2 separate regions of the Homo sapiens genome follow, and region 2 is linked to region 1. Evidence: fine-mapped expression QTL. A gene starts in region 1. The other region holds a variant in brackets. All regions are shown on one strand. Distances are from middle to middle.

Region 1 (12,358 bases):
TACTCTTGTGTGCTTGCTTGCTCTCTCTCTCCCTTGTTCTTTCTCTTTTTATACAGAAGGCATTAAAAGGGGTATTTATGAGTATCTAGTGCAGTGCCTAACGGAGTGCTTTCACATAGTAAGCCTACAATAATTCATCGAATGAAGTGAAACCCTATCTGTAATTTCTACATTCAAATTATTTGATCATGTAGCAGGAAAACTATAGATTTTTTTTCCTGGAGTATTTAAAAGTAACAATTCCTTATAAAGAAATATTTTACTCAGATGACTCATGCTTAGGACTTCCATCCCTTAGAAATCATCCATTTTTGCACAATGGGTATTATCTGTAAGGAAAATGAAGGGAAGACTACACTTCAGGATCCTGAATGACCACTGATACGTTATTGTAGAGAAAATCAGATATCCTATATACACTCGACTGTATGTCGTATGGTAATCCACTACATATGTCTAAAATCACTTAACAATGCAAGAATATAGTGCACACATGGGCTGCGTTCTGTAAGTAGGATTAACTATTGAATTCAACCAAGGTCTTCCCTGGGGACAGATTGCTGGAAAATACATCTACATGACATTTAAAAAAATAAATTAACCAATGACATCGGCTCCCATGAGACACATTGTTTCTTGTACATTCAATTCTATCACGGTTTTCTGTAGCTCTCTGTTGACATACCCATCCCAAATGACACAGAATTTCAAAAAATAAAGAAAAACAGAGCAACTGGAGCTATTCCATCTCTCCTGTGTGAAGTGTTATGTACACAAAGGAAAGATTTCCGTACATGAGCACAATGTGAACCACGACAGGGTGAGATCATGTCAGTTGGCTGTTCTTGTTATGCTGTGGTCACATATAACTTGCCCAAGGGAGTGTACAAAGCCTGTTTTCTTCCTGACAAGGACCAGCAGGGATTGCTGGAAAATAAAGAAAACAGAGTTATGGCAGGAGGTTTTAAATTTTCTCTTTAAAAAATGCCCTTTATTATGATAACTTTTCTTCTCGCTTTGATGTATTTAGTTTTCCTCATCTGTAAAATAGGAATAACTATTTTATGTGTTTAATATTTTTGCTCTGAGAATTAAATACCAGTAGATTGCCTGGCATAAAATAGCTAATCCATACAGTCCACATCAACATTGGCTAACATTAATTAAATACCTATTATGTGCCTGCCACTGGCCAAAGACCCCCCAAAAAAGTAAATCACAGAAGGAAAACCTAATACTAGAGGAGCAAGCAGGGAGCTGATTTTCAAAGCTTTTATCAGGCAGTCTAAGAAGTCTGGATATTACTCTGAAGACAATGGACAGCCTTTGAACTATTTTATATAGAGACCAGATGGTTTTAGATTTGTGATTTACAAAAATCATTCTGTCAGCATTGGTAAAGAGTAGACTAGAAGGGAAGCAGGCTGGAAGCAGCAGTAATCCAGGCTAGAAGTGATGCATGTGTGTTGGGGGGTGGAAGGTATGCCCCAAAGTAAGACAATGGTGGACACCGGGAAAACATTTTAAAATAACTTTTTTTTTTTTTGAGACAGAGTCTCACTCTGTCTCCCAGGCTGGAGTGTAGTGGTGCAATCTTGGCTCACTGCAACCTCCGCCTCCTGGGTTGAAGCAATTCTCCTGCCTCAGCCTCCCGAGTAGCTGGGATTACAGGCGCATGCCATCACGCCCGGCTAATTTTTGTATTTTTAGTAGAGACGGGGTTTCCCCATGGTGGCCAGCCTGGTCTCAAACTCCTGACCTCAGGTGATCCGCCTGCCTTGGCCTCCCAAAGTGCTGGGATTACAGGTGTTAAGCCACTGTGCCTGGTCAAAATAACTTTTTAAAAATTAACAAATATACTGTAGATTAGAAAATAAAAATACGCAAAAGGTTAAAAGTAGAAGTCATATGCAATCTTACTACTTGCAGCAAACCCCTATTAATATTTTTTTGTGTGTTTACCATTACAGGATTTTTCCTATGTATGCCTACACAGATGTGTGTGTGCGTGTGCGTGTGTGTGTGCGTGTGTGTGTGTGTATTATGTATATGTTTTTAAACTGGGATCTGTCACTCTGTACTGAGAGTTCTATGATGTGAATTTTCTCTTAATATATCAAAAACAATTTTCCACATCATTAAATATTGTTTGGTAAAATCAACTTACAAGGCTACTTAGTAATCCATTCTATAAATGTACCACAATTGATTTCATTCAAATCCCTAGTATTGTACATTTAAGATGTTCTTTTTTTTCTTTTTTTTTTTTTTGTTGTTTTTGCTATTAGTATAAACAACTCTGGGATAGATGTCCTGAGTATTAAATTTTTGGAAACATCATGATTGTTTCCTCAGCATAGAGCTCTAGAAGTTGAAGTGGTAGGTTAAAAGCTGTATTCTATTAAGGTTTCTGATACATATTGACGAATTGCTCTCCAGAAGAGCTGTATCAAATTATAGTCCCAGCAGCAGAGTCTATGAGTAGGAGATGAACTTGAGAGTGATGTCAAGGACGGAGTGTACTGGACTTGGGTGGGTAGAAGGAAGGATGTTTCCTGGCAAAGTATCAGGGCAGGAGGAAGATGAACTCTGTCAAGAGCAGCAAAGTAATGGGCAGGGCTAAGGAATAGGTGCCTGGATAGGTAAATGATAGGAAAGAAAAAGGTAAGATAACCAGGGGAGAGTGAAGAAAAGAGGGAAAAAGTAGGTCTTTCATGAAATTATGGGCACTTTAATTTACTCCTTTCTTCAGCAAAAGTAGCAAATGTAGCAAACAGCTAGTCTTTTCATAGCATTTGGCACTCTGTGCTACCAAGGTCCCCAGTTATATTCATGCAAATCTGTTTATCAATTCTTTTCACCCAATAACCATTTATTAGGTGACTACCATGTGTCAAGTGCTCTTCTGGATGCTATGGGTATGGAGATGAATGAAACCTGGTCCCTGCCCTCAAGGAGTTCACAGTCTAGTGGGGAACACAGAGACATCCACAGACCGACACCCTACAGTGTGGTACAGGCTAGGACGGAGGTAACTAAGTGCAGGGTCCTGTGGAAGCCCGAGGCCTAACATTGCCTTGTGCGTGCATTCATGTATGTTGGGCAAGGGCTGTCGGGAAGGCTTCACAGAGGTGTTGACATATGAGCTGAGTCTTAAAGGCTGAGGAATTTCTTGCATGCCTAAGGGTCACAGATCATGGTCATATTCCTAATCAGTGCCTTGAATATTTGTGCTACTGCTCTCAAGGACACTGAGTAAGGTGGGAAGGATGTTTGTGTGTAATCCAAATCCACTCGAGTGGTAACTATAGCTTCCATTGTAATCTTAATGAACATAGAAACATAGCATGTTTTGGCAATATTATTGCTCACCATACAATATAAAGGACAAGAGGCAAGGGGGGCATGCAGACTTTTAAAACAATTCTGGTAACACTGACAAAATAATATTAACATCCACCAAGTCCTAATAATTTTACCTCCTAAATGTTTCTCAAATCTCTTCGCTCCGCTCACGTCACTACTCTTGGGTCTTTATTGTCTCTCTGTGGAACAGAGTAGCAGCCTCATCATATCCACCTCCACTGTATCCTTCCCACTGTCATTTTCCTTACAGTAAAAATCTGATCGTGGTGCTCTTCTAAAACATGTTAATGGTTTCTTATGGCCTACAAGCAGCACTTCCCAAATTTCAGTCTGAGTATTACTTAGTGATTTTTACCATATTCACACACAATGTGTACTATTACTACTTAATATTTGTCTTTAAATGAACTGAAAACTGGTTCACTTTCTATTTTTATGAAGTAAAATCCAAAGTAATCTTAGATGTGATGGCTTAGTTCAGTTTTATGTTTTTTAAGACATATTTGAACATGTAACTAGTAAAATTAAAATGTTTGTGGGAGCACAGTGTAACTACCACTGGCAGATGCCCTACGTTTTGAGAACCACTGACCTATGGGGGCACATTCCAACTTAGGATTGCAATCAAGGTTCTTTGCAAATCAGCCCCAACCTCTTTCCAGACTCTTCTCCTACCCATTACAGTTTCCTTTTACTCAACTATCTGCACTCCAACCATGCTGAATTCTTCCACATTGAATGAACATGCCCTACTCTTATACAGCCACACATCTTTCACAGACTGACTCCTCTATCTGAAATGCCTCCCCTCCACTCCTTCCCTGCCTGGGGCAAACTCACTATCCTTCAAGACCTATCTCATGTCACCTCCTCATGGAAGCCTTCTCCCCGAGTCTCCCTTACAGTGAGTCACACCTTCCTTTATCCCTCCATAGCATTTTGTACCTGTCTCTGTTATACTACACACTACAGTATCTCAGAACTGTGGGCATCCAGCTCCCCAGCTAGACCCCAGGAAGAGTTCACACCTTGTACTTCATTGTTTCTCCAACACTTCACGTGGGCAGAGGTCATGAAAGAGATCTAGTGTCCCAGGTAACTTCTTAAAATGCTAAAATAAAATACATCCAAAGTGCTATCAAGGTCCAAATAGCTTAGAGGTATGATATGTGTTATAAAGAGAATCATCTAATTCAGAAATAGCCGTACTGACTATGGTTTTGGCAGACACAATTAGCTACAGTTGCAATGACAGTTAATTTGGTTTTGGCAGCTACTTTACAGCAAATACATTCTGACATAGAAATTTTAAGTGAATCATTTGGGTTTTGGCCAGGATGATGAACTATACCTATCTCTCCTTACCACAACTGGAAAGTCAAGAACAAGAAAGAACATTGGGAGCAGCAAACCATGTTGAACAGAGCATGGGCTTTGGAGTCAGAAATCTGTACACCCAAACCTCAACTCAACTTATAATCTATGTGACTTTAAGTAGATTGTTTAACTTCTGTGCATTTTAGTGTTTTCTTCTAGAAAAAGAAACAGGAATAATAGTACCTACTTCATAACACTCAAGATAATGCAACAAAGTATTTATGATGATGACTAGGACATTATGTGGGTTCAATAAATAGCAGTCATTATTGTCACCCAATGAGATGACTACAGTTCAGATAATGTGATGCACGGGGACAGCAAATGCATTTCTTAAGAAAATATATCGATGTCTCTAGGCTTTAAAGTTGACAGCTATAGACTGTAGCTAAGAATAGCTACAAACAAAACATCTGCAAGACAAGCTTCTTCTTGGATTTAAACTCACACCTGGAACATACCATCACACTTCTTTGTGTTCTCCAAGAATTGATCTCAAATCAGGTTCCCTAGGATGAAAAGAAAAATCATCCAATCTTAATTTTTGCCTTCAATTTTATTTGATACAGAATAATATCCAAACTATGTGTATGTTTCAAAGTATCATGTTATTATGACCCCAAGCTTCTCCACCCTATTTATTTCCCAGTATATTTGTGCTGATATCTTTTATTCCAATCAGGCAAGCCCACCTGTCTCACAGTGCTCCCTCTTCTGTTTACCCTTCTCAAAGTCCAATCTCAGTAGCAGGAAGCATTTTCTCCCTCCTCTTTGACAACTTCAAATCCCCTGTACTCTGCTGGAGCCCAGATTAAAATTCACCTCCTTCACAAAGCCTGAAAGCCGGATGAGGGCTTCAGCACTTCCCGGGTTAGGCTTGAACTTCCATAGATGAACTCACCACCCCCATCAGTATGCTCTTCCACTGACCCCTCTTAGCGTTTTTTGCACACGTTTGTAATAATACAATGATTAATATGGTCTGTTTCACACGGTCTACTTTATTCTGTAGAATAAAGGTGTGCCCCCTAAATGTTTGTCAACATTAGTGCTATCAGTCTTTGCTGGAAACCCCTAAAGCGCTGGATTTTTATAACCAGTCTAACTTGCCTTTTACTCTCACCAGAACCCTGCACTGAACCTTAAACACACATTTCTCAAAAGCAAGATTCCTTCCCTCTTTTGCTTCCCATCCCTTCTAGAAATTGAGGGGAAACTCTCCCCACTTCAAAGACCTGGTGGGGGAAGTGGCAGGTGGCTGAGGGGCCAGTAAAGAGATGGCGATCAATTAAGGAGGCAAAAAGAGAAAGTTTGAAAAAAAAAAGTCACGCCCTGAGCGTGGCAAGGAATTCCCATGCCCCAAAGAAAATGGGGAGTGTAGCGCAGGGAGGGTTATGTGCCCAAACCTGAAATACAAATTGAGGGAAAAGAGGAAAGAGATCACCCAATTCCTGCGGTAAGAATTAGAGTCCAGTCACCGCCTAGGCAAAACCCTGGACGCAAACCCCAACTTCGGACCTCTGAGGAGGCACAGAGCCAGGGGGAGGGGGGCGGCGTCGTGGGAAAAAAAAAAAGGGGCGGGCGAGTTGGACCAAAAAAAAAAAAAAAAAAGAGCAAAGACAGCGCGCTCCCGGGCTCAAGAGAACTGGCGCCTAGAGCTCAAAAGCCCACCCCCGACTCCCAGTCCCGATACCCCCTCCCCTGCAGAGGTGGAGCTGGGTGGAGTTAGGCGCTGAGGACCGCGGCCCCGGAAGCACCCTCCTCCCTAGGCCCCCTCAGTCCCACAGTCCCCAGCCACGGCCACCGGGGCTTTCTGCCTCTCTGACCTCCAGCTCCCCGGCTACCGAAGCGCTAGTCCTTATACAGCCGCGGAAAATCGGGCCGGCGCGGCAGTTCCTGGGCTCGTAGTGCCCTCGCGGCGCCCCACGCCGCGCCACTCTCTTCCGAAATGCCCGCCTCGCGCTTCCAGGCCTAGACCCGGCACTCTGGCCCAAGGCTGGACTCTCACACACAGGGTGCCCACTGCGGCGTCTCCTATTGGCTACTGGTCACCGGGGAAGCCGGAGGCCCGAGCCCATGGCTTCATGGGAAATGTAGTTTGAGGTCGCTGGAGGCTGTTCTTCCTGGGGGTAACTCGTGTTGACATTGGCAGACAGACACAAGTGAGGACCGAGAATTATGGGAGATGGAGTTGCGGGACACTTATTTCTCTATACGCACAATTCTTCCCCTCCCCTTCCGATTGTCCCCAGCGTTCAGACGGGGAAGGGTATTCTGGGTATTGTAGTTTGGGTGCACTGTCTAGAGAATCTCTCTTGGGGTTATGGGTTTGTGCTTGTGGGGACAGACGAAGGCTCTAGATTTATTTTCATGTCGGTTAAGCTCTTAGCATTTTGCGGGAAGCACTTTCTATCGTGATTTGAAATTGTTATTGAGTTTTAAGTGTTTTTCAAAAGATGATGTTTATTCTTTGGTAAGCTTAGAATTTTAATTGAGAGTTATAGTCCTTTAAAATTGTTAAAGTGTGTTCCTTGTGAACCACCTGCATTAAAATCACTTGAAAGGTATGGAAGAATGTATATATTTTTTTCTAATTGGAAATTATAGTTCCCCCTGGAAACAGTGTCATAAATAGGCATAGAAATGTGATCTACACCAGCCCAGAAGAAGCCTATTTAATCCATAATGAAGCTATGTTGTTGCCATGAAAAACAGTGGCCACATAAACTGCTATAAATAACAATTTAGAACAGATAGACAATACAACTTAAGTACAAACGAGTAACTATATGTGTCTTTAAGAAACTTAACCTTTTGAGTAAAAATATGTTACAAGAGCTGGATAAAGACATAGGTGGGGAATGCCAAGCACTTCCAAGTGACTTAAAGGTTGAGGAAAATGGTTGTTTATTAGGGCTAATTTCACTCCCAACTTTTGACCTTTTTTTTTCTCTGTTAGAGATGAATCCTTGTAGCCTTGTTACAGTTGAATTACTACAACTTCTTGATGAGGACAACTTTTCGACTCACGAGTAAAATGAAGGGAAAGACAGGGGAATTGCATTTTGCTGAGGTAATTGCCCAATATTTTAAAAAGATAAGTGAAGGAGGAAGACGATTTAATAAATTCAACCATTTATTCAGCATAGTGCTTTGTGCAAAGCTCTGGGCTAGGCACTGTTGCCACAGAATTGGAAAAATAGTCCCTACCCTCAAGTAGCTCAAAATCCAGGTGAGGGGAGTTGTAGTAGAGGAGAATCTGGGGGGAGGAATAGATGAGTATACAATGTGCAAAATGCTGTAAAGAAGTCTACATAGGGTTCTATAGGAACATAGAGGAGGAAGAACTTGTTCTACTTCTGGAGAACTGGTTGAAGAACCAGTAAAATATTTGTCAGATTTGGGGCAGGGAGGTCAACCATATTCTATACAAAGCATATGCAAAGGCATAAAGGCATGAAAGAGTGCAGAGAACAATAGCAAAAGTTCCATATTGCAGAGACTAGATCAGGCAGCAACAAGGGGTCATATCAATTAGTTCATAATTTAACTTGAAAGTGGGAGAGAACCATCAGAGGAATTTTTGTGCTTATATAGTGTTTATTTTTTAAAGCATATACACATAGAACATACTGGGAACACATAGCTAGGGTATTATGGGGAATCATTCTGGAGGGTGGTAATTGAATTGCTATATTATGTTTTAATACTTTTTATACTTTTAAATTCCTCCAGGAAAATAATTTGCTTTTTTAAAAAAAGAAAAATCGGCTGGGTGCCGGGGCTCATGCCTGTAACCCTAGCACTTTGGGACACCAAGTTGGGAGGATTGCTTGAGCCCAGGAGTTCGAGACCAGCTTGGGCAACATAATGAGACCTTGTCTCTACAAAAAATCAAGAAAATTAGCCAGGCATAGTGGCGCATGCCTGTAGTCCCAGCTACTCAGGAAGCTGAAGCAGGAGGATCCCTTGAGCTTGGAAAGTTAGGGCTGCAGTCAGCCGATATTGTACCACTACACTCGAGTGTAGTGGGTGATAGAGCAAGACTCTGTCTCAAAAAAAATTAAAAAATTAAAAAAAGAAAGAAAAAAGAGAAAAAGAAAAATCACCTCATTTCAGCCATAAAAAGGAGTGAAACAAGGCATTTTCAGTATTATGGCCACCAGAAAAACATTGTGTGAATCAAATGCAGAATTTCTTTTCTCAGCTTTGTCTCCTTTCTTTTTATCTTTTTTTCCATGACTCTTTACTTTGATTTGATCATTGATTTCAAAGTATTTGCAGAGCACCTACTATGTTCCATACACTATGACAGGTTTTGGGTTTTAATGGTGAGTTAAAACATGGGTTCCTGTTCATCAAAGTATTTCTAGCAGGAAATGGAATAATCAGATGGAGTTGGTAGATGTGGAAAGTGAGAGACGGGGAGGAGTCCATTACGACTCCCAAGTTCTGACTTGGAAGACTAAGTGTATGGTAGTACCATTCACTGAGATATTGAACCTAGAAAGAATAGCAAGTTTTGTGAAGAATAGGAGGAAATCAGTTTTGAACATTTAAAATTTGAAGAGTCTGTGGAACTTTTGGTTGGAGATGCCTGATAGGCTGCTGAGAAATGCCGGTCGGAAGCTTGGGAGAGAGGTCTTGCTTGGAACTAAACATTTGGGAGACATTAGTATAATATAGAGGGCAATTAAATAAGTGAAAAATTGTTTAAACTTTACTTAGAGAGTATTTTTTTTTTTGAGACGGTTTCTTACCCTGTTGCCTAGGCTGGAGTGCAGTGGCACAATCTCGGCTCACTGCAACCTCTGCCTCCTGGGTTCAAGTGATTCTCCTGCCTCAGCCTCCCGAGTAGCTGGGATTACAGGTGCCTGCCACCACAGCTGGCTATTTTTTTTTTTATTTTTAGTAGAGATGGGGCTTCACTGTGTTGCCCAGGCTGGTCTCGAACTCCTGACGTCAAGTGATCCACCCGCCTCAGCCTCCCAAAGTGCTGGGATTACAGGCGTGAGCCACTGTGCCCAGCCAATTTAGAGAGTATTTAGAATAATAGTTTTTAAAAAGACAAAGATTATGGAATCCTGGAAAATAATGATATTCAAGTAGCAAGTAGAAGAAGAGATGCCTTCCAAGGAAGCTGAGAGGGAATGCCCAAACAGATGAACCAAGAGAAAACAAAGTAGAATTACTGGCATATATTACAGAGAGGTCAAGTAGCAGGACAGAATAGTAAGAAGAAATTACTCCTTCATCAATATAACAAGTTTTTATTGAGTACCTATAATGTGCCAGACATTATTCTAGATGCTGGGAATAGAGAAGTGGAAAACACATACAACATCCCTTCCCTTTGGAGGCTATATTCTGTTAGGAAGAAGCCATCAACAAACAAGATAAATAATTAAAATACATAGCTGTGATAAGTAATATTTCTTACTGTGTATGTCACAGCTGTGTATGGCTATTTCTGTATGGTGATATAAATACACACACACACACATATATATATCTCCAATAAGCCATATGGAAATTTTATATATAATATATAAAACATATCTATATCTCCAATAAGCCATACAGAAATTTTATATATAATATATATTATATATAAGCACAAATGTATACATATATTTGTATGTGTATATACAAACGTGATACTCTTTGGTCTGTTGTTATATAATAAGATGAATTTGTGAAATACTGGCCCAGGGTCAAACAGTCTGGCTGGATTCAGAGAACAATTAGGAAGTCAAGGTTAGAGCTGTATCCAGAGCCAGTGTAGAGCCCAGGTCAAGGCCAGGGTTCATGTGTATAATGTGGAATGTATTTAGCTTCAATCTTTTCTCAGGTTAAGATTTAGTAAGTCTGTAGCTGTTTTTACAGGCCATTGTGGATTCAGGATCAGAAGACCATCAAACCAAGCTTAGGGTTAAGCCTGATAGCAATATTAGGCCCCAGATTTAGAGCCATGGTTCAGTCTGTGTCACAGATTAAAGTGCATTTCTGACCACTCTGGACTAACAGCAGCCTCAGGGTGTTAAAGCTCACTCTGAGGCTGCTGTAAGTCTAGAGTGGCCTGGTTTATGAAGTCAAGGTGCAAGATTTGGGTTCAAATTTTGGCCAGAATTAGGATTTAGTCTGTGTGTAGGAAGAGGCCTCATTCTAAAATTAGAGTTAGGGCTCAGTCTGTGGACCAGACTTAGACCACACCCAAGGTTAGGGCTCAGCTCAATGTTTGACTTTAGTTTTTGATCAATGTTGGAATCACTTTCATTTCTAGACTTGAAAGTCAATAAAGGCCAGGACCATGGCTCTGCCTGGGATTAGTCTTCATGCTGATGATGTTGCCTAGGAAAAAATGAAGTAAGAATATGAACAGGATTTATGTTCAGTCTTTCTTCAGGTTAAGTTTCAATTCGTATTCATGGTTAGAGTTTATTCTGGGTCCAATAATTAAGTCTCAGTCCGTGGCCAATGGTAAGGCACAGTCAATGTCTAATATTCAGTCTGTTGCCATGTTAGGACATTACCTGTCATGTGCCCTAGAGCCTTGTCTCAAACCAGAGTTAGCATTTCATATATGGACAAAATTATGATACAGTTTGTGGCCAGGATTTCAATGATGAATATGAACAGGATTTGGGATGCATATTTGGCTAGAGTAAGTTCAAGGTGTGGTTTCTGACTTTAGCCAGTGTCAGGATTCTGTCTTTGTCCATAGCTCATATCAACAATGTTCTATGGAGCTAACTCACAGTGGCCTGTGTTGGCCCTCATTCTGTGGCCAGAGCAGGGCTCAGTCGGTGACCTGTATTAGCCATTTCAATTTGACCACTATCAGAGTTGAGTCTGGAGGGAGTAATTCCACTATGACTTTATGTAGCATTTGTGTTCACTGAGTATTGGTGGTAGTGCTATCTGATTAAACTTGTACCAGAGTTTGGGAGTTACCAATAACCAAGGTAAGGCTTACTATGAAGAAGGTTTTAAGGCTAAGAGTGTAAACAGGTTTTTTGGATTAGCTGTTGATGTTATTTGTCAGTCAGTGGATAGAGTTGAGATGAGAACAAACAACACATAAAATCCAGATTGAAAGCTTTAGAGGCTCAGGCTGTAATCAGGGTTTTGGGATCAGGATGTTGCCAGGGTTTGAGTTCAGAGTGTTCATTGCCTGTTGTCAGTCTGGCACTTAGACTCTGGCTTAGTGTAGCAGGCATTTCGGTATCAGTAGTAGAGTTCAGTCTTTGCTAATTGTTAGTGACCATAATGTGCCCAGTGCCATGGGTACATCTATTCACAATTGAGGACTAAGTTTGTGACCAGACTGATTGCTCAACCTCCAGCTAGTGCTAGGACTCAGTTTGTGGCCACTAATACAGTGAACTTTGTTTATGGGTTTAAGACTTGATATGTGACAAAGGTGAGTACTTAGTCTCAGCCTGTTGTTAGATCTGATAATATGAGCAGGATTTTGATTTAGTCTTGTAGGGTCAGGAATCATTTCTCTAACCAGGCTTAGGGCTTGGCCTTTAGGTCTCAGACTGTGGTGGGACTTACAGTCTTCATCCCAGCTCAGTATTCAGAATGTGGCCAGGAAGAGGGCTCAGATCTT
Region 2 (12,358 bases), 360 kb before region 1:
CCTAAGAAGTTCTTGAGCCCAAACTTGTACTACAGGAAAATGTGTCCATTCAAATGCCAGGCTAGTTTATTTTTTTAGTAGGCCTCAAAATACTTTTGGTGTTTTGGTACTCAGTTTTAAACTTCTTTTAAATTTTATCGATTAATAATAATAATAGCTGATACCTATTGAGTGCTAACTATGTGGCAAGCACCTTGCATGCTCCATCTGATTTAATAGTGTGGTTCACAACGTTATTTTCCCATTTTATAGATGAGGGAACTGAGGCCCAGAAATCGTAAGTGATTTGATCACTTAATTTAGACCTATTGGACTCCAAGTCTTGTTTGCTTAGCCATTAAACACTTTGGCCTTCTCATATAGATAGTTCACAACACTGTGCTTCCCCCAACCCCTCAATTCGGACCTGTGGGCTTCTTTGTATGTGAAGTTGCATAATCAAGTAAGCTGGTCACCCTCAAAGCTAGGCAAGCCTCAGAGACTTTGCACTTGTCACAACAGAGAACACAGTGCAAAGACCTGATGGAAGCATGTCTGGAGGAGCAGAAAAGTAGGCCAATGTCACTGAAGTAGAGTGAGTGAGGGGGAGAGTAATAGAAGAATGGACTGGATTAGGAACAGAGGACCAGCTTTTATAGGGACTTACAGGTCTTTGTAAGGCTTTTACTCGGAATGAAATGTGGAGCCATTGCAGGGTTTTGAACAGATGAGAGACATGAGCTGACTTAGAGGTTTAACAGGATCATTCCAGCTGCTGTGTTGAAACTAGACAGTGGGTGGTCAAGGGTAGAAACAAGGAAACAAGTTGGGAGGTATATTATTTTCCCTTAGGAAACCCTAACAAAGTACCACAAACTAGGTGGCTTAAAATAACAGAAGCTGATTGTCTCAAAAATCTGGAAGCTAGAAATCTGAAACCAAGGTGTCATTGGGGCCATGGTTTCTCTGCGACTGCGTGGAATCCCTCTTTGCCTCTTCCTAGCTTCTGTCAGTGGCCATTGATCCTTGCCATTCCTTGGCTTTCGGCTGCAGCACTCCAATCTCTGCTTCTGTCATTGTATGGCTTTTTCCATGTGTGTCTCTGCCTTCACATGGCCATCTCCCTTCTGTGTCTCCCTCCTCTTCTTATAAGGACACCAGTCATATTGGATTAAGGGCCCACCCTACTCCAGTATGGCCTCATCTTAACTTATCTAATTACATCTGCAATGACACTATTTCCAAATAAGATTACATTCTAAGGTACTGGAGGTTAGCATCACGACATATATTTTTGGCGGGGACAGACTGTAACCCATAGCAGGAAGCTATTTCAGTAATCTGGGCAAGAGATAAGGGGAGCTTGAACCAGGATGGCAGCAATAGTGGTAGTGAGAAGTGATCTGGTAATGAATATATGTGGAAGGTAGACCCAAAAGCCTTTGCTGATGAAATGGGAGTTGGCCCAAGAGAAAGAGAAGCAAAGATGACTCCAAGGTGTTTCAGCTTGAGGAACTGAAAGGATGAAGTTAGCAACAAGTGTGATGGTAAATGCAGAAAGACAGCAGATTTAGGAGAAAATCATGGTTTGGTTTTGGACAAATTAAATTTGAGATGCCTGTTAGTCATTCAAGAGGCAATGTTCAGTAGGAAGTTAGTTATATGAGCCTGGAATTCAAGAAGGAGTTCAGAGCTAGAGACTCAAATTTGGGAGTGGTTTCTAAGGAGAATGAGAGCCCACTTGTGATTTTAGGCATAAAGCTTAACACGAAGCTTACTCCAGCCAGGATCAGTTACTGGGATGCAGATGTAGACAAGACGAAAAGTTGGACTTAACCTTTGTTCCAGTTTTTCTAGGTAGGTGTGATGATGGGAGAGGGAATTGGGGAGCTGAGGATGGATGCCAAGGAGTGATGATAATAACGGACCGTAGAATCTAAGTGAAATAAACATGTAAGTGAAGATATGAGGGGGTGATAGAGGGTAAAAAGATGATTAACAGTGGGAGGGTTGTTAGAGTGGAGATATTAGAGGGAATTAGGAAGAGAGAGAAAAGAGTGGGGTGATTAAAATTGAGATTTTTTTCAGCAGAACATTGACTAAAAAGAAATTTTTTAAAAATAAAATTGAGATGTTGAAGGTCCTGCAGTAGTTTATGACGAGATCTAGGAAATAAGCCTGGATGTGGGTGACCAAGGATGGAAAGAGAGAACAAGATCTTTGGAGTGGAGGAGGTCAAGCAGCTGAGAGACCAGAGTGCTATATGGATTATTCACAATGTAGACAATGAATGTAGGTCTGCACAGACACATGCATGTATGTATGCAGACTCCACATAGATATTGAAATCACCAAGAAAGATGACAGGGGCAGTTGTGAAAAGACAGTGAACCACAAGCTCAAATCATCAATGAATAAGGGAGAGTGAACAGGAAGAGGGGAGATGATAACAACAAGGAGGTGTAGCAGGTAACACACTCTGAAACTTAGTCTTACAGCAAAGTGATTGAAAGAAGCTGGGGCAGGCAGTTTGGGGAAGGTCTACACACAGGAAGTGGTAAGGGGGAGCAAAGAGGACACCTGTTCCACCTCTGGGTCCAGTGGTACATAAAGTATGAGAAAAAAAATAGTCACCACTTGAGAGCGCTGTACAGGAAGCAATGTCTTCAGAGGGGAGCCGAGTTTTTGATAAACCCAAAAGTTCAAGGAAAATTTTGGAGAAGCTGAGAATGTAGGGAATTTTGCAGAGAGAAAGGTCAAAGGGTTTGGGAGGGTTGGGAAGGGGTGGTCGATTGAGTGAGATGAGGAGGTGCAGGAATTCATTTCCATGTGAGTGATCATGGATGATCTAGATGGTTTGAACTTTTGTGATGACTGAAGTAAATAGGCATTTAGAGCACGATGAAACCTGATGATCTCTTGGCTGGGGAACAGATGGTTAGTTTTAAATGTAGCCTCTCCTTGGGACTGGTGTGTCCTGTAGTGCAGTGTGGTCTATAATGGGAATGATGGGGTGAGGTGGAGTTGTGGTCTCACTCTCACTAGGAGCAGGTGGAACACTGGGCTCCCTTTTTTTTTTTTTTTTTACTTTTTGTGGAGAATGGGGTCTCGCTATATTGCCCAGGCAGGTCTCAAACTCCTGGACTCAAGCTATCTTCCCACCTCTGCCTCTCTAAGAGCTGGGATTATAGGTGTGAGCCACCGCGCCTGGCCCTTTGATGTTCTTAAGAGAGGCGTCAAGTCCAGAGGAGGCTTGATCTTACCAGGAGAGATTGTAACTCTCAGGGTCTCTCTTTTAATCCTATTGGGTCACTGTAATACTTCTCTTATTTCTTTTATTTTCATAGTCTGCTCATTACTTTAACATAGTACAATGATGTTTGTTTTTGTAAAACTGATACATGATCACTATGAAATATTCAAGTAATGGAGAAAACTATAATGAAACTTAAAAAATCCTCCCCAAATACCCTCATTAACACTTGGTTAACATCATCTCAGACTTCTCTATGGATTTTTACACTTGTAACTATTTTACATGGTCTTGTGTTTCCTTTAAATAATATGAGTTATTGTTGTAAACAGTTTGAGTACTATAGATTTATTCTAATCCTCTCACTTTACAAATGAGGACATTGAGTTCTAGAGAAAGGAAAGTACCTGTCCAAAGACACTCATCCCGTCAGTTAGGCCCAGGTCTCTTTTTTGTTTTTTTTTTTCTTTTTCTTGAGTTGGAGTCTCGCTCTGTCGCCCAGGCTGGAGTGCAGTGGCATAATCTTTGGCTCACTGCAACCTCCACCTCCCGGGTTCAAGCAATTCTCCTGCCTCAGCCTTTTGAGTAGCTGGGATTACAGGCACCCGGCACCACACCCGGCTTATTTTTGTATTTTTGGTAGAGACGGGGTTTCACCATGTTGGCCAGGCTGGCCTTTTGGCCAGGCTGGTCTCAAACTCCTGATCTCGTGATCTGCCTGCTCAGGCTCCCAAAGTGCTGGGATTACAGGCGAGAGCCATGCTCCCAGCCAGGCCCAGGTCTCTTTACTTTCCAGTTCAGTGGGTCTCTTTAAGCCGTGCTCCTCTCTTCTTCTCTTACCTTCTACATAGCATGGTCCCTGATATTTCAACTCATAGATTTCTGCATTCAGAGATCTCACTTTGCCTTTGGTTTTGAACACTTATTCATCTAGTCATTCAACAAACCTTTATTGGACATCTGCTATATGCCAGGCAAAAATGTTAGGCACTAGAGGTGTGGTGATGAGCAAAACAGACATGATCTCTCACCTCATGAAGCTTACATTCTACAGAATGCACAGAAAGTTTGTGCTTTACTTCCTAACTTTATCCATTCAGGCCAAGGCGCATATAACTATGCACTTGTTTATAACCCCAAGTCATTCGATGGTGATGGGAAAAGAAAAGAAAAATCGTTAGACTTAAAGTCATATCACTAGCACATGGGAGTACCAAATGAATACTTGATAGTCATAGATACTAACAAAATCCATGAGGTCTAGAATACTTTTCTGTAACTATAGTTTCAAGCATTAATTTAAAAGTTTAATTTAAAAATGCCATAGTGTTACGTATAACAAAAATGCCCAAAACACAACATTTAAAATTTTAAAATATATATGATCTATAAGGATGCAAAAGTCCTTCTCTCTAATTGTACCTTCCAGAGGTAGCACTTCTAAACCCTCTGATGTGTGTCCTCATCAACTTTTCTCTATGCTTACATAGATTTTATTTTTTAATAATAACAGGATTGCGTAATTGTTGCCAAATTCAAACAATGCAGACAGACTTACACTGTATTAAAAGTGAAAATTTCTCATATACTCACCCCCAATCTCAGTCCTCATGGGTGACTATTAACATATTGATGCATATTTGATGTGAATATTTTCAAATCTTTTTCTATGTATTTACATAGAAACACATGCATGAACACACACACATACACACACACACACACACACACAAGCAAACAGGGCTGTTTACATTTTTTGTTTTAAGGCAGCAGTAGTCAGAAATTTAAAGTTCAGAAGTCGAGGGCACATTCCTGTGTTTTTCATTTTCGACAAGTAGAACAATGCAGCCATATGCCGGTCCCTCTCTGGAGTTAGTACCCAATGCTTGGAATGTGAGCAGATGCTGAAGGCTATTAATGAAGTCCTTGAAGGGAGGCCCATTCATGTATGTTGTAGACACAAGGCCAAAGTTGAATGTGGTGGCCAACTGAGCAGCTGGTAAGGGACTAGGAAAGCGAGGAATGCACCAATGCTGGTTGCGAGTTGATGGACCATGGGAACCACATCATCTGGAGGAGTGTCCTGCCATTGCTGTCATTTAGGAAATGGAAGCAACACTTGGAGTCCTGAAGGCTTTTAACCTCAGTTGTTACATTAGTGTGTTGCAAATGTGATAGAGAAAAAAAATCTGGGAAAAATGATCTGATATGGTCTAAATGAAACTAGTTTTTATCATGCCTAAAATTGGAAAACTCCAAGACTTTCTTTTTTTCTTTTTGATTTCTTGGATACAAAGAACAAGACACAGTAATGTGTGTTTGATTAATGCCAACTCCCTGAACTCCTTAATGTCAACTAGCTACTCTTCATTACCAAACACCACATGTGCTCTTCTTTCAGTTTAGGCATACCAGCGCAGCTGCAGAAGACACAGTGGTGATCTCTATCACACCAACAATCAGATATTTGTCATAATAGCCTCCTAATCATATCGCATATGAAGCCTCAATGAAGTCTTTATAACCAGACATGAAATAATTAACCTTTTCTAATTTAAAAGACCTAATAGGGAATGGTCTCTGTGACAGGTGTAAAATTCCATTCCTTCTAGAAAATTACTCACCTAGCAGATGCTCCTTCTGACTGAAAGAGAAATTTCATTGCAAAAAGAATGTTCACCTTTTATTATGAATATTGCACAATGCATTAAGACAATGGCTTTCCATGTAGCAGTGCATAACCTTGATCTTCTGACCACTAATGTTCATTGTATAATACAGATAACAAATATTCACCTGTCTCCATTCTTCATCAGTGAATTGCAAGGACACTTGGATTCTAATGCTGAGGGTCCCTGGAAGTCTGAGAATGCATCATAGTCTTAGGCTTTTTCAAAAGTGTAAATAGGTTAGTGTGCTAAAGACTTGCATTGAAAATAGAGATTGCTCAGAAAAAAAAGAATTGTATTTCCACTGCCAAAGAGAAGAATCAAGATCAAGAGGAAGAAACTATTTTTATACCACAGTGCAAAGATAAGAAACCTTCAACCTATTATTTGGATGTGGCCCTGGGCTTAACTTGGTACAACTTGAAGCAATTTTCTGAAGTATGTACCCTTCTCCCCCTACACTGAGCCAGATACATATACAGACAATTTTGTTGAGTCCAACATGAATGTGGTGCGAACTCAACAGAGATCTCTGGGTGTTAAAAGGCAGGCCCCATGCCCCGAGATGGCCTTTGAGAGGGAGAGATGCTTTGCACAGAGTCCTAATTTTCCCAGGGAGAAGTTGGGTGGGTGATATCAACGACAGCAGTGATAGAGACTGCATCACCCTTGGGCTGAGTGTGGTTAAGTTT[G/T]GGAAGAAGTCAGAGAAAGTGTGGGGTTGCTGACCTTGGGTGTGCCCAGCTTTCTGAGTGCTAACTGGGAGGTGGCATGAAGATGGCAAAGCTGGAAGTGGAGAAGGAGCAAAGGCTTCTGCCAACAGTGTCTGATGTATGGTGAGGCGGACCATGCTGGTTGTGCTTTGTATTTCTTTTCTCTTTCTTCTGTGTTTCTCTCCTCCTTCCTCTGGCTTGATTTTATTCTCTCTCCTTCTTTTTCCTGGGGTATGAGTGACAAGGATGGACTTTTGAGAGGCTCTGAACTTGAAATTTCAGCAAAGAGAAGGACCTGTGGTTTGTGTAAGCATCTCTCTGTTGTCCAGATACAGAACCCCCAAAACATCGAGAGTGGCTTCTCTTCCTCTTTTCTCTGCCTCCCATCCAATCCAAGATCTCTCAATATGCACTATTTGTGTTATCTTCTTTGAAAGGTCCCTCTTTCTCTGAGTCTTCTCTTTCCCTTAGTTCCTTTCTCCATTATTTAGACAAAAATGAGAGTAAACTATTCTTTATTCACTTTCGTTTGTTGAACAGAGTTTTGCCTTTTATTTTAAAAGCAGTTGAGCAGGATTTTTATATTTCTTGCCCATAAAACCTAAACCTTGTTAACATTTTTCAAGTTAGTTTTAGTCCACTTAGGGATAGTTGCTCTCAAGAGATAAAAGATTACCCATACCTATCCCTTTTGTGGGCTTTGTATTTCACAGATCTATTGAAAAATACCATTTATAATAAAAGCTAGCAATTATTGAGCTTACTCTGTGGTAGGAACTTAATCTGCATGATCTTATGTAATAGTGGTAGCCGCCCCACGGGGCTGTGTGATGACTGAGTGAGCCCATGTATATAAAGTGCTTAGTGCAGTGCCTGACAGATAGCAAGCTGTCAATAAGTGTGCTATTAATACTGTTATTAGTACTACTACGATGAAGTTACTGGAATAAGCCACAGCCAGTGGCCTTGGAAAAACAAAGTTAAGGGTCTAATCAACCAAGACTCACTAGACAGAGCAAAGTAGCTGGTAATAGGATAGTAAATGTTCCTGGGATATGGCAGAGGAACAATGGTCTGGAAGCAACAGAAGGAGTAAGGAATAGGCTGATAACTGTCCCCACTGCCATCTCCGGGGATAAGGTGAAGCTACTTTAGGAGATGGTCTCCCTTTTTTTTTTCCATTATGAGAGGTTATTTTTAATTCTATTAAATTCCAATGTTTATTCAGAAAACCTGGTAGAGATTGAATTGCTATATGTACTTTCTTAGTTTTCTTCTTCATATCATATTTTGACCATTTATCTTCTACACCTGGCTGACCTGCATGTTCCTTGTAGTGTAACTTCTACTTGGTGTTTGTGCTTTGCTTTGTTTTCAAATTTAAATTGTGAGATACATTTTCTAAGAAATAGCCCTGATATTGAAATGGCTTCTGTGGAATAGGTTTGACAGATGTAAGTCTTTGATTCTTTGGCTTTGGTTTTTGTGCCTGTTACAGTTTTACACACATTCATTCAGAGGAAGACATTACCATCAATGTGTTGTTTCTTTTTTCAAATTCCAGTATGTTTTCAAAGACCCGTATTTCACTAAGCAGTGTACTTGTTGAAACTGATGTGAGTGACTTTATGTTTCCACACGTGATAGAGCATCAGATACTGGAGTTTGCCAGGGGTAGAATGGTTGGATTCAGGAATGTTTAGCTGACTCATTGCAGGAAGTTACCCTGTAATCCCAGCTACTCGGGAGGCTGAGATGAGAGAATCACTTGAGCACAGGAGGTTACAGTGAGCTATGATCACGCCACTCCACTCCAGCCTGGATGACAGAGCGAGACCTGCTAATGAAAGAATTATGTTCCAAAAGCCAGCTAAGCATTTTCTTTAAATGAGAAGAGTCTGTGTTTCATGGCAGCTTGAAAGAGGGGGAAACATGAAGAGGAAATAAATGAAGACTATCTCGGTTTATTAAGGACACTGCAAAGGATTCTGATGAACACCAGGTGGAGAGGATGCACAGGGCAACGCTGTGGGGAGGGGCGTGGGATGGTCTCTAGCAAGATTGGCTATAGTAGCGAATTAAGAGCACATCTAGATTTGGATTTCAGTGCTAGCTGTGCCATTCATAAGCTGTATGACCTTGGATAAATCGCTTAACTATTCAGAGTTCTAGTTTCCTCACCTGTAAAACGGGAGTGCTAATATTAATGGAACCTAGCTCAGATGGTTGTGTGGTAGCATATGTGAGATAATAATATGCATGAAGTAAGCTTAGCATGCCTTCTACCTAATAAATGAATGCTGCTGCTATTGTCATTATCATTCCAATCACCCTGCAGAGAGGGTATGTTTGTCTTCATTTTACAGTTGAGAAAACTGGGGCTACAGGAATCAATAACTTTTCCAAGGTATAGTTAATAGGCACAAGGCTAGAATTTGACCAGAGATGTCTCTGCCCCAAAGCCTGTGATCTTTCTACTGCTCTGTGATGCCTCTGGAAACAGTGTTCTTATTCCAGAAATGAGAAGCACAAGGTCAGCTCTCACTTAAAATAGTAACAAAAACAAATCCTAATATGTTCCTTAGCCTGTGAGGTACACTGGCTGCTCATTTCACTTGCTTTCAACTACAGGGAAAAAGAGCTGTTTGTCACCTGTGGTTTGATGGAGCTATTTTTTTTTTCTCCTCTAAAGCTAGCTTCCCCTTTTCACTAAATTAGTGTCATTTCCATGAAACAAAGGTGTTTCCGATGTTTCAGCCTTTTCATTTCTCTCTAAGCATCCACTTCTTGAAGGTTTTTATTTTCAGGTAGATTTACTGCTGCCCCAAACACAAGGACCTCAAGTCTAAGCATTTTCTGGAGCCTTGATATCTTTGGGAGAATTGTTACTGCTGAGCTCCGATTGTACAGGAAATTTTGGACATCAAATTTTCAGGAGACCTGTATGCTTCTCTCATCCCCTACATGATACCACACTCACAACCTTGGCTTCAATTTTTTGGCATGTGGCTTTGCTGGTTCTGGCATCTGATACTCTCTGTAGCTTCAGTGTTGCTTCTTTTTTTGAAATAGCATGCTCTTTTAGGTGTTGCTCTCGCATACCTTGTTTAGTACTGGTGGCATATGGTGTTCCTACAGTCTTACCATTCTTACCCAACAGAGGAGTCAAAAGGGGAACATTTATCTGGCTGAGCTTGGGGAGAGCAAGGACTCAGTAGGTTTAATGTCTCAGGAAAATGACTGGAATCATGAGTAGAAATCATTATAAATTGCACAGTCTGAATTTATTTGACAGAAAATTATTGAATGTTCATGATGAAGAAAGCATTGTGCTAAATACTCCAGGAATACAAAGACATGGCATCTGTCCTTCCAGAGCATATGAGTTAATAAAGGGCAAAAACAGTATTCAAAGTATTTGTGGAGTTTGAAGTTCCATGAGGAGATTATACCCTCCTCCCAAAACCAAAAATTCTGTAGGGATCCACTGTCTATAGGACCAGGGAAAGCTTCACAAAGGAAGTAATATCTGATCTGTCTCTGGCATGAAATAGGTGCCCAAGAAATATTCATTGAATTGGGTTTAGACCTGTGAAATATGAGAAAGGGCCTTGTAAGTGGAGGGAATGGTGTGAGCAATACTGCAGAAGCGAGAATTGTCAGAATGTATACTGGGAACAGAAAGTATTTTAGGCCAGATTAAAAAGTATATATCAGGGAGGGATTGGGGAGGGTGGTGGCAGTGAGGCCCAGATGGAGGATCATGACCTGGAAAGCCAGGATAAGGAGTTTGTCCTTAGTTTAGCCGACATTAGGGAGCCACTGAAGATTTTTGATGGTAAGAATGATAAATTTATTTCCTAAGATAGCTCTGATGGCAGAACAGGTGGCCAATGCTTTTTTAAACAAACAAACAAACAAACAAACAGTAGTTGAGGAGAGGTCAGGAGAGGGAACATGAAGAAAAAAGTCACACTAGTTGGTGATCAGGATGCATTGAAGACCACCCTAAAGAATCCATTTGGTAGAAGGGTGGAGTTAGAGGCCAGATTTCAAAGATTTAAAGGAATGAGTGTGGTAGTGGAGGGAAGGAAAGCAAGCTTCAGCAACTTGAGAACCCAGAGGCCTGAAGGAAAAGCTTGTGGAGTCTAGAGCATCACTGAAGTCAGAGAGGAAGGGGCCTGCAGAGGGAGGCACTAGAAATGAGGGAGGGACTGGCCAATTCATATAAAGAGATGACAGAGGAGGAGGCTGAGAGGGGAATTAGTGGAAGGGTTTTTCTTAGAAAGGAGGATTTTTTTTTTTTCAGAGATAGGACTGAAGGAAGAGAGACTAAAGGAAATGTATTAAGGAAGAGAATGAGCCACGAGAAAAGGAAAGAGTAGCAAAATCTTATTTGGGTCTACATATAGAGCCTTGCTGTCTTGGCAGAATGCTCAATGCTCAGAACACCCTTCTGAAAGCTTGCCCGCCATCCGGGCTTCCTCCACAAGATTCAAGGTCTCATTGATTCTCTTCAGCTTCAGTCAGAGACAATCTGACAGCTGCAGTTGGCTCAGCCCTTCTTGCAGCAAGCTGACACCATTTCTGGTGGGCTTCAAAGGCAGTATAAATGGTTCTCCCTTAAGAGCAGGTTACACTCGGCACCTAGGCAGCCTCATTACACAACTAATTAAACCTCTATCACTTGAAAGGAATCAATGGCAGTTCAAGATCTGCTTGAGTAGACTTTGCATTTCCGTGTTCACACATAGCAGTCCTACAGTCAAGGAGTTCCCAACCACTGCAAGGGGAAGATGTAAACAAGACCTTAGAAATAGATTGTTTCATTTCCTATAAGGGGGTGTCCCAGAAGATCTTACTCATTAGACAGTAGGCAAGACCCCTTTAACCTTTTGAAATAGAAGGGAGTTTCGGGCAGCTCTTTAAACGGTGGGAAGCTCAAGCTTTCTGCTCTGGTGCATCCATCTGGACAAAGGCATGTCAACTTCTCAGAGTCTGTCCTTCCTGGCAGTTCCAAAGGGAGGTCCCCGGGTGTTGAGTGCAGTAAGCTAGAGCCTGGGTTTTCCCCTACAGAAAGGCTCCAGCCCTGTTGTAAATACAACTTTCAGAAACTAATTTAACTGGTTCCACTTAAATGAACTGGGAAATGACCCAATAGAAGGGGACAGAGGGACTTGTGCCAGTTCTACCATCGCAACAGGAGCAGCCACACCAGACCTTTTACTTTCAGCAGGAGAATGTTGACTTTCTGAATGCAACACACTTTTCCATCTACTTACTGTGTTATTTAAATAAATTGCTTTGCTCTTGAGGGACCTTATACTCTTTGGCTCAGTGAGAAGCTGGTAGATTGGAGTCAGAAGGGGCTGTCAATGTGGAATCTAATAGAGTTTCAGTGTGGGAATATTAGGGGTCAGAAGCAACCTTACATTAGTTATCACATCTTGTCATTAGATGACATGGATATTATTATAAAGAGGAAATCTACAGGGAGCGTGGAGATGAAAGCCATAAATTGGCTAGAAGAAGTAGGAGATTTCAATGTGAAAGCAAGTGCTTCAAGATGTGGACTGCCTGTGGACTGCCAAACTGCCCTATGGACTGCCCAGGCTCCCTGCTCTACTCTCATCTCATATCACTTTTTACTCCTTGAAATACTGTCAAGTTTGGATTATTCACTGTCCTCAGATGACAAGGGTTCAGCGCCAACAGACTAATTTTCACGCCGGCCTAAACAGACTTAA

Which allele goes with the higher level. Alleles are on the strand shown, and positions count from the first base shown. SD is a standard deviation of normalised expression in the study named.
As copies of T replace G in region 2, the expression in putamen of the gene that starts at base 6,730 in region 1 goes up (moderate effect, 0.46 SD a copy in GTEx).

What was found. PIP is the estimated chance that this variant, and not a neighbour inherited with it, causes the effect.
Region 2: its variant is the best candidate, but not a certain one, in a credible set for the expression of ENOX2 in putamen (GTEx, PIP 0.76).

What each region holds. Positions count from the first base shown.
Region 1 is chrX:130,896,480-130,908,837 of GRCh38, forward strand. ENOX2 (ecto-NOX disulfide-thiol exchanger 2) reads right to left here and starts at 6,730. Exons shown (of 15, transcript NM_006375.4): 1 at 6,570-6,730; 2 at 5,205-5,252. RefSeq lists enhancers at 6,096-6,615, 6,476-6,745, 6,616-7,135, 6,756-6,945.
Region 2 is chrX:130,541,238-130,553,595 of GRCh38, forward strand. No RefSeq gene overlaps it. Among named protein-coding and RNA genes, the nearest start is that of RBMX2, 150 kb to the left of the region's middle. RefSeq lists an enhancer at 11,318-11,367. The variant G/T (reference allele first, on the strand shown) is at 6,594.